3 separate regions of the Homo sapiens genome follow, and regions 1 and 2 are each linked to region 3. The links come from fine-mapping of genetic effects on gene expression. A gene starts in region 3. Each other region holds a variant in brackets. All regions are shown on one strand. Distances are from middle to middle.

Evidence for each region. PIP is the estimated chance that this variant, and not a neighbour inherited with it, causes the effect.
Region 1: its variant is the best candidate, but not a certain one, in a credible set for the expression of RHOBTB2-AS1 in lung (GTEx, PIP 0.76).
Region 2: its variant is the best candidate, but not a certain one, in a credible set for the expression of RHOBTB2-AS1 in testis (GTEx, PIP 0.89).

What each region holds. Positions count from the first base shown.
Region 1 is chr8:22,984,729-22,988,881 of GRCh38, reverse strand. The region is part of intron 1 of RHOBTB2-AS1 (RHOBTB2 antisense RNA 1); the gene reads left to right. It also overlaps a transcript of RHOBTB2 not described here. Among named protein-coding and RNA genes, the nearest start is that of RHOBTB2, 13 kb to the left of the region's middle. RefSeq lists an enhancer at 434-1,190. The variant A/G (reference allele first, on the strand shown) is at 2,184.
Region 2 is chr8:22,867,948-22,872,100 of GRCh38, reverse strand. The region is part of intron 3 of PEBP4 (phosphatidylethanolamine binding protein 4); the gene reads left to right. Among named protein-coding and RNA genes, the nearest start is that of PEBP4-AS1, 7.9 kb to the left of the region's middle. The variant A/G (reference allele first, on the strand shown) is at 2,435.
Region 3 is chr8:22,997,614-23,001,766 of GRCh38, reverse strand. RHOBTB2-AS1 (RHOBTB2 antisense RNA 1) reads left to right here and starts at 1,962. Exons shown (of 2, transcript XR_007060857.1): 1 at 1,962-2,088. It overlaps RHOBTB2 (Rho related BTB domain containing 2), which reads right to left and starts at 2,219. Exons shown (of 10, transcript NM_015178.3): 1 at 1,662-2,219. RefSeq lists silencers at 1,510-1,559, 1,890-2,059, 2,280-2,539.

The DNA.
Region 1 (4,153 bases), 13 kb after region 3:
CTTCTCCACCTGTGTCGGTGGAGGCTATCAGCCTCAGCCCCTTGTCTGAGTTATCATAGCCTCGCTAGCATCTGTCTCAGCCCCAACCCTTCCAAAAGCCAGGGTGACCCATTCAGCTACTCCTTTGCGAGGAAGTGACAGCAGCCTGGCTGGGTTGTGGGTGGGGGAGTGGTTGGGGGTCTCTGTTGCCCTGGAAGGAATTCCTACAGTAAGCCTGAGAGCTCCTGGCCAAGTGTGGCTACAGAAAGGAACAAAATTTGGGGGGCTGAGGGCAAGAGAGGGAGAGGATTAGGGATGCTGCTCAGTTTCTCTTGATAAATGGATCCTGCTGCCTGAAGGATGGGGAGCTCCCAGAGTTGGGTGGAGCCATGAATGGGCCACCCAGGACGTGGGAGTGAGTAGTAAGAAAAGGGGGAAGGAGGTCAGGTGCGGTGGCTCACGCCTGTAATCCCAACACTTTGGGAGGCCGAGGTGGGCGGGTCACTTGAGGTCAGGAGTTCGAAACCAGTGTGGCCAATATGCTGAAACCCTGTCTCTATTAAAAAAACAAAAAAATTAGCCAGGCATGGTGGCAGGCCCCTGTAATCCCAGCTACATGGGAGGCTAAGGCAGGAGAATCACTTGAATTCGGGAGGCGGAGTTTGCAGTGGGCCGAGATTGCGCCATTGCACTCCAACCTGGGTGACAGAGTGAGACTCCATCTCAAAAAAAAAAAAAAAAAAAAAAAAGGGGAAGGAGCAGGACAACAGAGATGCTGGAGAGCAGCCTTCAGTTGGGGAGGGGCAGGAGATAGAGTGGGCATGAGGGCCTAGGCGGCCCTTTATCACAAGCTGTTCCTGTGTTCCCCTTGGCCAGTGACCCCTCTGGATGGATAGGATTCAGTGGGTTGTGGGGGGTGGGGTGCAGTGTCATCTACTTGATCTTGGGGGCCTTCCGTTCCGTCCTGGCCAGGGTCACAAGGAGAGAGTGGCATCCAGGCCTGCCGCTGGCACATGGCGACTGGTGACACTCCCCCTGGACACCCTCATGACGAGTGGAAGCCCTCCACCTCCTGCCCCAGATCTGGCTGCCACAGGTTGCTGCTGGGCCACAGTCCAGGGGCCACCGCACCTTGATGGGGAAGATTCCTGATTGCTGATTGCCCCCACCCCTCGTGCTCCCTTCACACATCCCTCCTTTGGAAGAAATCTGATTCTGAGAACTGGAAATTGTGCAGTGCTGTGAGTGACCAGGTGAAGATAGGTTAGAGAAGCCAGGGCTTGGAGATCCCTCTCTTTTCCCTGGGCACAGAGCAAGGGCCCAAGGATTGTAGACTTACCTGCCACCTCGCCTCTGGGGCTCTGCTGGCCTGTCACTATTCCCTGTCCTGAAGTAGTGTTCTCGACCAGGTCTGCAGGAAGAAACAACACAAGGGTTTTAAGGGCTGGGATCCAAAGTCCAGCTTATGGGAAGGCAGGTGAAGGACATGATTCCTGTGACCAGGGGGCCGGCCTGCTGGTCAGTTCCCTCCTCCTCCAGGGCTGTGCAAAGCCCAGAGATAAACCCTGGGCCAGAGGCTTTGTTCCCCGTCCAGGGCTGTGCAGAGCACAGAGATAAACCACCTAGACCGGAGGCCCTGTTCCCCATCTTTGGCCAGGTGAGCATTCTTGATGCCTGGCCCAGCCCCTGGCCCTCAGGGCACTATTTTGGTCCACATCCTGCTCTTATTGTCCTGGCCTGTTCTTCTCAGCCCCTGGTGACTCACACTGCTTTGGAATTTCACTCACTGGCCTTTCTGACGCACATCTTGAGAGCCTGGCCTACAGCCAGGGAACAAGTTATGGCTTCAACCCCACCAGTAATTAATTCTGGCTACCTGAGCTAGAGGCCATGGAAGGTGGGGAGAGGGAAGGCCACGAAGAAGCAAGGTAGGGGTGGTTGCTGGTTGATGGGAGGAGGCTTTGCTCCTACTTCTGCTCACCTGCACACAGGTAGAAAACAAACAGCAGAAAAGCTATCGGCTCACAGTGGCCGGACATCCGGGGCTGGCCAGCCGGGAGACATGTGAAGCAGGACTGATCTAGTGTAAAATCTAGACTGGCCATTATGCTTCTTGGAGTGGATTTCTGGACCTTAGTTTACCTTTTTGTGAGTCCTATAGGTTTGATAGCTCCTGATTTGGGATGCTAAGGACCTTTATACTG[A/G]GGTGATCATGCCTCCATGTCACTCCAAATTACTTGAGCTCTGTTTTCTCTCCATTTTCAATATGTTTTGACGGGTTGGCCCTGGATAGAATTCTGGAGAAGGGAAGAGAGAAAGAAAATTGCCATAACAATGCACTGGGGGCCAGGCGTGGTGGCTCATGCCTGTAATCCCAGCACTTTGGGAGGCTGAAGTGGGTGGATACTTTGAGTCCAGTAGTTCAAGACCAGCCTGGGCAACACAGCAAAACCCCGTCTCTACAAAAAATTAGCCAGGCATGGTAGCCCATGACTGTAGTCCCAGTTATCCAGGAGGCTGAGGTGGGAGAATCATCTGAGCGCAGGAAGTTGAGGCTGCAGCTGCAGTGAGGCACTGCACACCTGGGCGAAAAGAGTGAGACCCTGTCTCCCAGAAAAAAAAAAAAAAAAAAAAAAAGCAATGCACTGGGCTGGGAATCGAAGACCTGGATTCATTTCCAGCAACCCATTCCCTGGCAACCCCTTACCAAGTGCCTCATCAGTTAAATACGAAAGAGAGAGAGAGAGAGAGAGAGAGAGAGAAGTCCACCGTCCTTGCAGTGTTCCCTCCCATGGGTCTCTGATGTTCGCTGCAGTCACTGGCAGAGGCCCCCTGGTTCTCCACTCCTCTGGAAGGCAACTACTTTTCCCATCTCTTACTTAACTGTCCTTGACCTGCTTCCCCCTTCCAGCTTCCCAGGCTTGAGGGGTCCCAGCCTTGCTCCTGCGCCTGCTAGCACCTCTGTTGAGAAGGGCTTTGTGCCGCCTGCTGGGCTGACTCCTGTGGGTGCACTGGTGGGTAGGCCAGGGGAGAGCCTGAGTGGGTTCTAGAAACAATGCCCTTACATGTAACTCCAGCCCGAAGAGTGACTCCAGGCAGAGGAACGGCTGGCCAGGTCAGGGGCATTGGAGTGCCTGTGAAGACACACCCTGAGGTCTGGTCAATCCTCTGCCTTCTCATCAGGCAGGTCTGGCTGGGAATGTTCTATAGGGAATGCCGGAAAAGCATGCTTCCAGCCCTCCATCGCACCTTCCTCCCTGTTGGGAAAAGGGCTTGTGGGGCGCCTGCATAAACTGGCCATAAAAATATGGGACAATAAGTTGTGGAAAGCCACAAGAGGCCTCTGAGGAGGAAAGCCTCCTAATTGCCATCATGTTCCCATGCTCAGAGCGAGACCTGCTCTCTTATCTATAAACACTGTGTTCAAGGAGAAAGACACTCCTTTGAAGCATTGGAATGTGGACAGACGTGCAGCCTCCTAGTTAAGCACACTCCCACTAGCTCCTCTCCGATAAGTTAAAGATACGCTGTTTGAGCACAAAGGAGATTCATTTAAACCGCTATTGCTATAGATTACGCCTGTGACGCAGTGCCTCCCTTTCACTGTTTCACCCTGAACATCTGCTTCTTAGATCGAAGTGATTGTACTCAATAAATAGTGTGGAACCAGAACTCTGGGCCTTTTGCAGCCTCCATTTTGCAACTGGCCCCCTGGCTCCCACCTTTATGAACTCTTAACCTGTCTCTTCTCATTCCTTTGTCACCACCAGACTTTGGGTACCCTATGGGTGGTGTTGAGACTGGTCCCCAACACTCCCTCTTAGCCACACCCATGGGAACCACGATCATTTGGGAAGATCAAAGGACTAAGGGGTGGGGGTAGGAAAATGAGTCTGGGCCTCTAATTCTATACCAATGACTATAACAGATTTTTTTTTTTTCCTAAACTGAAAACACTCTTTTTTTTTCTTTTTCTTTTTTGAGATGGAATCTTACTCTGTTGCCCAGGTTGGAGTGCAGTGAGTGCAATGGCTCACTGCAATCTCTGCCTCCCAGGTTCAAGTGATTCTCCTGCCTCAGCCTCCTGAGTAGCTGGGATTACAGGCATGCACCATGATGCCCGGCTAATTTTTGTATTTTTAGTAGAGACAGGGTTTCGCCATGTTGGCCAGGC
Region 2 (4,153 bases), 130 kb after region 3:
GTCTTTCACAGCAACTTGGATGGAGCTAAAGGCCATTATTCTAAGTGAAATAACTCAGGAATGGAAAACCAAATATCATATGTTTTCACTTATAAGTGGGAGCTAAACTATGAGGATGCAAAGGCATAACAGTGATATAATGGATTTTGGGGACTTGCGGGGGGAGGTTGGGAGTGAGGGATAAAAGACTACATACTGGGTACAGCATACACTACTTGGGTGACAGGTGCACTAAAATCCCAGAAATCAGGGCAGGCGCGGTGGCTCACACCTGTAATTCCAGCCCTTTGGGAGGCCGAGGCGGGTGGATCAGGAGGTCAGGAGATCAACACCATCCTGGCCAACATAGTGAAAACCATCTCTACTAAAAATACGAAAATTAGCTGGGCATGGTGGCACGTGCCTGTAATCCCAGCTACTCAGGAGGCTGAGGCAGGAGAATAGCTTGAACCAGGGAGTTGGAGGTTGCAGTGAGCCAAGATCGTACCACTGCACTCCAGTCTGGCAACAGAGTGAGACTCGGTCTTAAAAAAAAAAAAAAAAAAAAATCCCAGAAATCACTGCTAAAGAACTTAACCATGTAACCAAAAACCACCTGTACCCTAAAACCTATTTAAATAGAAATAAAAATGAAAAAAAAAGAATGTTATGGGGACTAATTATGATAATAGATGTAAATCTCTTAGTACAGGACGAGGAGCTAAATCTGTAGTGACTATTATTATTCCAGAGAGGTCTTCCTAGGTCCTTTAGTGCCCATGGGCAGAAATGAAACTACATTTCCCACAACAGTGATGGGGGTGCAAAATGTGGGCCCAAGCCTAGAGGGGAACTGTCCTTAGGACAGAACTGCTGTCAGAGAGAAACCAGTAGGTTGTTTGATGTTCGCTTCTAGACAGAGGCTGGACTCTTGCTCCTGCTTTCCGGGGTCACCTATCCCAGCTCTTCCTGCTTCTTTTTCCACCCACCCCCGACCCCTCACCCCCAGGGCCCAGCAGCATTTCAGTGGATTAAAGGATCCTGCTTCACCCAACTTTGGGATTGGGGGTCAGGCGTAGCAATAGGAAGTCTTTCTTTTATTTTCCTGGGTTGAGCAGGAAAGAAACAAGTCCAAGTGCATCTGTAGAGGATCCTCCAGAACGTTCCCTTTCCACCTTCATCAATGGCCATCTTTGATCCTGAGAATCTTGAGGTGAGGGTTGCTCCAAAACAAAACCCCTTCTCTGGCAGAGGTCCCAAGGGCTTCTCTGGATAGGTGAGAAGTAGCCATTTAGAGCCTGCAGATCTACTGTTTGAAAAGACCTGTGGCCCATTCAACTTTTTCTCAATAGACTTTACTTTTTAGAGCAGTTTTTGGTCCCCAGCAAAACTGAGCAGAAGCTGCAGAAAGTTCCCACATACACCCCTGACTCCTCCCATTCCCCCACTCCCCACCACTCACTATCAACATTCTCCACCAGAGGGGTGCATTTGTTACATTTGAGGAACCTACATTGACATGTCATTCTCACCCAACGCCCATACTTTACATTAGGTTACGCTCTTGGTGTTGTACATTCTATAGGTTTAGATAAATGTATAATGACAAGTCTCCACAATTGTAATATCATACAGAGCAATTTCACTGTCTAAAAATCCTCTATGCTCCACCTAGTCATCCCCTCCCTCACTCTTGACCCCTGGCGACTGCTGATATTTTACTATCTCCATAGTTTTGCCTTTTTGAGAATGTTGTATAGTTAGGATCCTACCGCATGTAATCTTTTTAAATTGGCTTCTTTCACTTAGTAATATGCATTTAAGATTCCTCTGCGTCTTTTCATGGCTTGGTAGCTCATTGCTTTTCAGTGCTGAATAATATTTCATTGCATGGATGTGCCATGGTGCATTTAACCATTCATTGACATTTTGGTTGCTTCCAAGTTTTAGCAATTATGAATAAACATCTGTGTGCAGGTTTTTGTGTGAAGCCTGGATTTGTTCCAGGCTGGCTGGTGCAGGTTTTGTGTCTTGAAACCTAAGTTTTCAAGTCCTTTAGGTAAATATCAAGGAGCATAACTGCTGGATTGTATGCTAGGAGTATGCTTAGTTTTGTGAGAAACTGCCAAACTGTCTTTGAAGGCAGATGTCTCATCTTGCATTCCCACCAGCAATGAATGAGAGTTCCTAGGGCTCCACATCGTCATCAGCATTTGATGTTGTCAGTGTTCTGGATTTGGGCCATTCCAATAGGTGTATAGTGGTATGTCATTGTTGTTTTAATTTGCAATTCACTAGTGACATATCATGAGCACCTTTTCATATGCTTCTTTGGGACCTGTATATTTTCTTTGGTGAGGTGTCTGTTCAGATCTTTTGCCCATTTTTTAATTGGGTTATTCATTTTCCTATGGTTATGTTTTCAGAGTTCTTTGTATGTTTCGGATCCCAGTCC[A/G]TTATCAAGTATGTCTTTTTCCATGGGTATTTTCTCCCAGTCTGTGGCCTCCTTCAGTTTTGTTCCCTCTTCTTGTGTGTCCAGCAGATTCACAGCTCCTTATGAAAGAGGTGCCCAAAACAAGAGCAGCTATGGGGGAGCATGGCTTCCTGGGGAAAGTCCATGAGCCTGTAACCACCTTTCACTTTGAACCCACATTTGTTTATTCTTTAAACACTTGCACTGTGCCCGGCACTAAGTCCTGAGGACGCATCTGTGAAGGAACGAGACAAAGCCCCAAGTCTTGTGGAGCTCACTTTCTGGTAGGGGAGACATACACAAAAATAAATAAACAAACATAAATATATATAGGGAAAAACATACACAAGTATACCATACAGCGATCTGGAACCCAGTCCAGTGTAAGAGCAGAACAAGGGAGACAAGAGGCACTGGCACAGGGGACATTTACAACATAAATAGGATGGCAGAGTGGACTTCACTGAGAAAGGGATATTTAAGCAAAGAGGATGAAGATGGAACCAAGAAGGCAGAGAAAGAAGGCAGAGGGGCCAGCCAGTACAAAGGCCATGAGGCAGGGGAGTGCCTGGTGTGTTTAAGGAACTGCAAGGAGGCCAGTGTGGCTGGAATGAGTAGCGTGGAGGAGAAAGATGTAGGATGATTTTGGGGTGGTATCTGCAGATCCTGTAGGGTCTGGTGGCTTTTGCTCAGAGAGAAATGGGGAGCCATGGGAAGGATTTGAGTAGAGGAGCGAGATGACCTCACTTAGGTTTGAACACGACTTCTCTGGCCACCATGTTGAAAACAGGCTGCCCAGGATGCCCAGATGGAAGGAAGGAAGGAGGCTAAGTGTGATAATCCAGGTAGGAGATGACAGAGGAGGTGAAGTCGGTGAGACGTGGTCAGATATTGAGCCAACAGCATTTCCTGCTAGATTCGATATGGGGGTGAGATAAAGAGGAATCCTAGATGATGCAAAAATTTTTGACCTGAGCCACTGGAAGGACGTAGTTGCCATTAGTTGAGAGGGATAGGAGCAGGTTTAGGGGTCAGGGGGACATGTTTTGTTTACACTGTTTGACATCCTGCTGGAGAGGTCAGGCACACAGATGTTGGGCAGATGGGTTTAGAGTTCAGGGTTGTTTGTGTATATGAAATTGGGCTGAGTTCTGTGGGGAATAAAAAGGAAAAATAAAACCCAATTCCTCCCACCCCTACCTCTACCCAGGACTTACTGGGGAGTTGGAGAGAATGCAGGCAGGCAGCACACACACCGGGCACACCCAGAGGAAAGCAGCTTTTCTGAGACTCCCTGGAGGCTTGAAAGCAGGCGAACAAATCCAGGCTACCAAAAATCACACTGAAGAGACAATCACAAAGACAAATCCCCAAACACCTTGACTGCTCACTACTAAAAAGCAGTAAGAAGAGAAAACCAGGGGGGTGTTTTCCCGTCTCCAGCAGCAAAAGCATAGACATTTCTGACCTGCAAAGATGCTCACAATGGCTCCTCATGGTCTGTCTTCCCTCTCTACTGACAAGGCAGCTAAACAGAGGGGGACCCAACCCCCAACATCTGGGGCAGTGGCTTCAACTCTGTCGGCAGCCACTTATCAAACAGCCAAATCTACCCTGGACCCCTGCCAGCCGGGCTGGGCTAGATCCTATTGCCTACGGTCTGTGCATGCACAGAGGTGACTGTTTAAAAGGAGATCTGTA
Region 3 (4,153 bases):
GACTGGCAAACTTCACTGTCCTATCTAGGAAGAGGCAAGTCACTTATATTTTCTGGGCATCAGTCTCCCCCTCTGGGAAATGGGTATGAAGACATTGGAAGAGTCTCCTGAACCGTGGTTAATTTGTGCCAAGAGAGGCTGGGCTGAAAGGAGGTATTTGTCTTCTTATGTAATGTGGTATTATATAATGCTAGATTGCATATCTATATGTGTAATTATATCTGTCTTTAAGATACAGACTGGCCCAATTCAAGTGTTAGAACTCTTAGTCTAATCAGGCCTGTCTTAAAGGAGGATCCTGTCCTGGAGAGAGTGTGCCAAGAGTAATATAATTTTTGCCCTAGGATGTTGCTGATGTTGTATCATTGCTGATGTATGGTGATACAGCCCACTCATTGCTGATATATGGTGATACAGCCCATTCAGTGAGCCTCTCAGCTTCCCCTCTCCCTCCGGCTCTCTCTTCTTCCCTGACTCCAGACTCTCCCTCACAATTGCCTCATCCCCACTCAATCAACCTCCATAAACTATGACCTCCTCACCACCCAGCCCTGGGCATCACAACCCCCAACTCACTCCTCTTCCATGACAATCGCAAAGTCACTGGCATGTGTTCCTTCCATCCCTGTCCCATGATCCCTGTGCCCCTCCAAAAACAGCCTCCTGCCCACCGCTCTCCCAGCTCTTTGTACTTGGTGCAAGCCAAAACCCAAGGTGTGCTGAAATTAGCTACAAACCTCGTGCTCTCCCAGTCCCACCCCCACACCCCTACACACACTCTTTGCAGAGCTCAGAAAGGGCCCCTTTCCCTCCCACAGCTGATAGGAGGCTTGTTCATCTGTGGCTGCCCTAGTCTGGTTGTCAAGGAAACAACAGAATCTCCCTGGGAGCCTGGCTTGTCTCCTAGCAACCAGTATCCCACATCATCTTACAAAATGGGAATGGGAGGAAAATCCTGAAAATGAAGGTAAAATCAAGGGAGATGGATTGAATGGAGAATTGGAAGGAGAAGAACAAAGAGAGAGTGGACTCCTAATTCGGGGAGGCTCCCACGGGGGTCGCTGGCATTGCAAGAAGCCCCGTGCAGATCCAACAGAAAGCAAGGCCCAAAGGGACCCTGAATGGTCAGATTAAAGAAATGCAAGCCTAAACACAGATAAGCCCCCTCAAACCTAAAATGTGGACACATCACCAAACACCGCCAAAGATCTCCCCAGTAGTTTCACAGAACTCAGTTACATAGACTGCAATGGAGTTGAGTTCAAAGAACCAGCTCCGGAACCGCCAGCAAAACACCCCAATTCCACTGTTGTTTTGTGTTTGTTTTCTTAACAGAATCACTCCCACCACTCTGGACCGTTTTTCCTTTTTTCTGACACGCTACTCTGCACACACACAAAATAGAAATTTAAAAATTTTTAAACATCGAGAAGGGGGAGGGGCACGACAGGCCGAAGCAATCAAGTCATCTTCCTTTCCCTAGAAACACCGGAAAGGATTAGGCTCCAGCCCCGCTGTACCCAGCAGCCGAAGCCAGAGCCCAGGGACTAGCGGGGCCCGGGGAACGTAGCGAGGGGCGCGGCAGGGCAGGGAGGGCGGAGCGGCGCGTCTGCAAGGGCTGCTGGCCACCCCGCCATAACCGCAAGCAGCCATCTACTTACACCACTACATGTGACGGGGTGGCTTCTAGCGTGAGGAACACATCTCTTCCTGCTGAGCACGCTCATTTTAGTGAAATGTCAGGGGTCCCTCCGCGCCTGCAAGTTGGGACGACGCCGGCGCCGCCGCGCTGCTGCTGGGCTCCAGCCTCCCGGCCAGCTCGCGGCCACTCAGAAACTCCGGCAGGGCAGCCCAGGCCGGACGTGGGCCCAGGAGCGGACGCGCGCGCTGCACTGCAGCCGCTGCCCCTTCCGGATCAGCATCGCCCCGCGCGCCAGGCGCCCAATGTCACGGCGGCGCGCGGAGCCGGGCTGCGGAGGCAGCGGGCGGCGCGCAGGGGCGCCGGGAGAGGGGCGAGGCCGCCGCCGCTACGCGCCCGGGCCCGCGGCGAAGGCGCTGCCGCGAAGACGCCTGGCGCTGCAGTCCCAGGTACCGCTCGCGACCTCCTTTTTTCATTCACAAAAAAAGGATAGGGAAAAAAAAAAGAAAAGAAAAAAACGGGAGGGTAAAAAAAGGAGGAGAAAAAAATCGCACCCAAGACGACAGCCGTGACGGGCCCCGCCCACTGCCGCGCGCAGTTGGTGGAAAGCGTTCGGGGGGCGGGGAGGGGGCGGGCGGGGGAAGAAGGGGATTGGACGCCCCGCAGATCCCGCCTCGCAGCACCGCTCCCGCCCACCGCCCGCGCTCTTCCGCCCCTCCCGCAGCGACGCCGCGGGGAGGGTCTCGGCTCGCGGGTCTGGGTGGCGCCGGTCCCTCCACCTGGCGAGGCGCAAAGGCTCTCCGGACGCCCACGGGGTTTTCCCCTTTCCTTCGGGAGGCGGGGGAGAACCTCTGAGAGGCATCCTAGTGCACCCTGGAAGGGATGCTAGTTGGAGGAGAACGTGTGGTTGTAAGCCCAGGCCCCCACCACTTGCCCACGGGGAGGCGACGGCAGGGGCAGTCGGGGGGGCGGGGGGCGGGGGCCGGGTAGGGACGAATAACCGGCGTTTCCATACAAGCCCTCTGCTGCTTTGGGAATTTTCGTGGCACTTGAGAGCCTTCCTCCCTCCATGGCCCTTAATGAGTTGTGGGGTGGGTACCTGTACCACGTTACCTGTCTCCCACCTAGGCCTTCTTCAGCGGGTCCCCACCTCCATCCCATCCCCCTCCTGTTGCCTCCTGGAGTTCAGTAATAGCTGCTAATCTCTGAAAGAAACACCATGAAGTGAGTAGCCTCGAAAATCGTCCCTAAGCCTTCTTTGGGTTTTCTGCCTCAATTTACCCCTCTGTAAAATAGAGAGATTCTAAGGTATAACATCTATAACCTGAGGGGTCCCTAGAAGACACTTTCCATATTCAAGGCTGGTTTTATCAGGATAATCTTTTTTTTTTTTTTTTTTTTTTGAGTCTCCCTCTGTTGCCCAGGCTGGAGTGCAGTGGTGCAATCTTGGTTCACTGCAACCTCCGCCTCTTGGGTTCAAGCAGTTCTGCCTCAGCCTCCCGAGTAGCTGGGACTACAAGTGCACGCCACTATTCCCAGCTAATTTATGTATTTTTGGTAGAGACGGGGTTTCACCACCTTGGCCAGGCTGGTCTCGAACTCCTGACCTCGGGTGATCTGCCTGCCTTGGCCTCCCAAAGTACTAGGATTACAGGCGTGAGCCACCATGCCCAGCCAGGATGATCTTGACTGCTAGTGTTAAGTAGTCAGCTCAGTCTGGTTTGATTCATCTCCTCAGTTACCTCTGGACAATTTTTAAAGCCCAGACCAGCCTGCCACCCACCTGAACCGCCTCCACCACTCCTCCATCTTGTGCTCTGAAAATGCAAATCCACTCTAATATTAGTTTATGCAAAATATGATTAGGAAGAGAAATTTACTGCCAAAAGAAAGCCGGGTTAAAAATGAATTTTGTGTTGTCTGAAGCATGCTTCTCATCTGTGAATGCATATACTTGGAAGCTGTCCCTCAAGGTGTTTGTGATCAACGTGCCTACCTACCTGGTCAATGTACAGGAAGTGCTCGGTTGTTGGAGGATGCTTCTCCCACCCCTTTCTCAATCTACTCAGAGCTAGCCAAGAGGTTAACAATGACTGACAGTGCTACTTACTTCTCATTTCTGGTTAGAACTCACCCTCCATAAACCAGAAAGTACTTATTTGAATACATATTTAGGAGAGAAAGTAAACCATGCTCACACATGTTCTTCCTCCACATGTTTGGCATTGAAGAGACTTACCCCATCTTCTGTGTGCCAAAGAGCCCCTGCGCCAGAGAAAATCATAACTTGAGATCTCTGCATGATTCCCACGGCAGGCCAGGGTCTCTCCCACGGACACCCTGTTCCCTCCACCCACCTCCAGAGACCAGCTGAATGCCAGATGCCAGTTGACATCACCTTTCACCTGTCCTGGCAGGACCATAGCCCCTGTGGAGCAAGGAGTAGGAAGACAGAACTCCCGTCCACCCAAAGTCATGAAGCAGGAGAGGGTGGCTGCTCGGACTGTAAGCTAG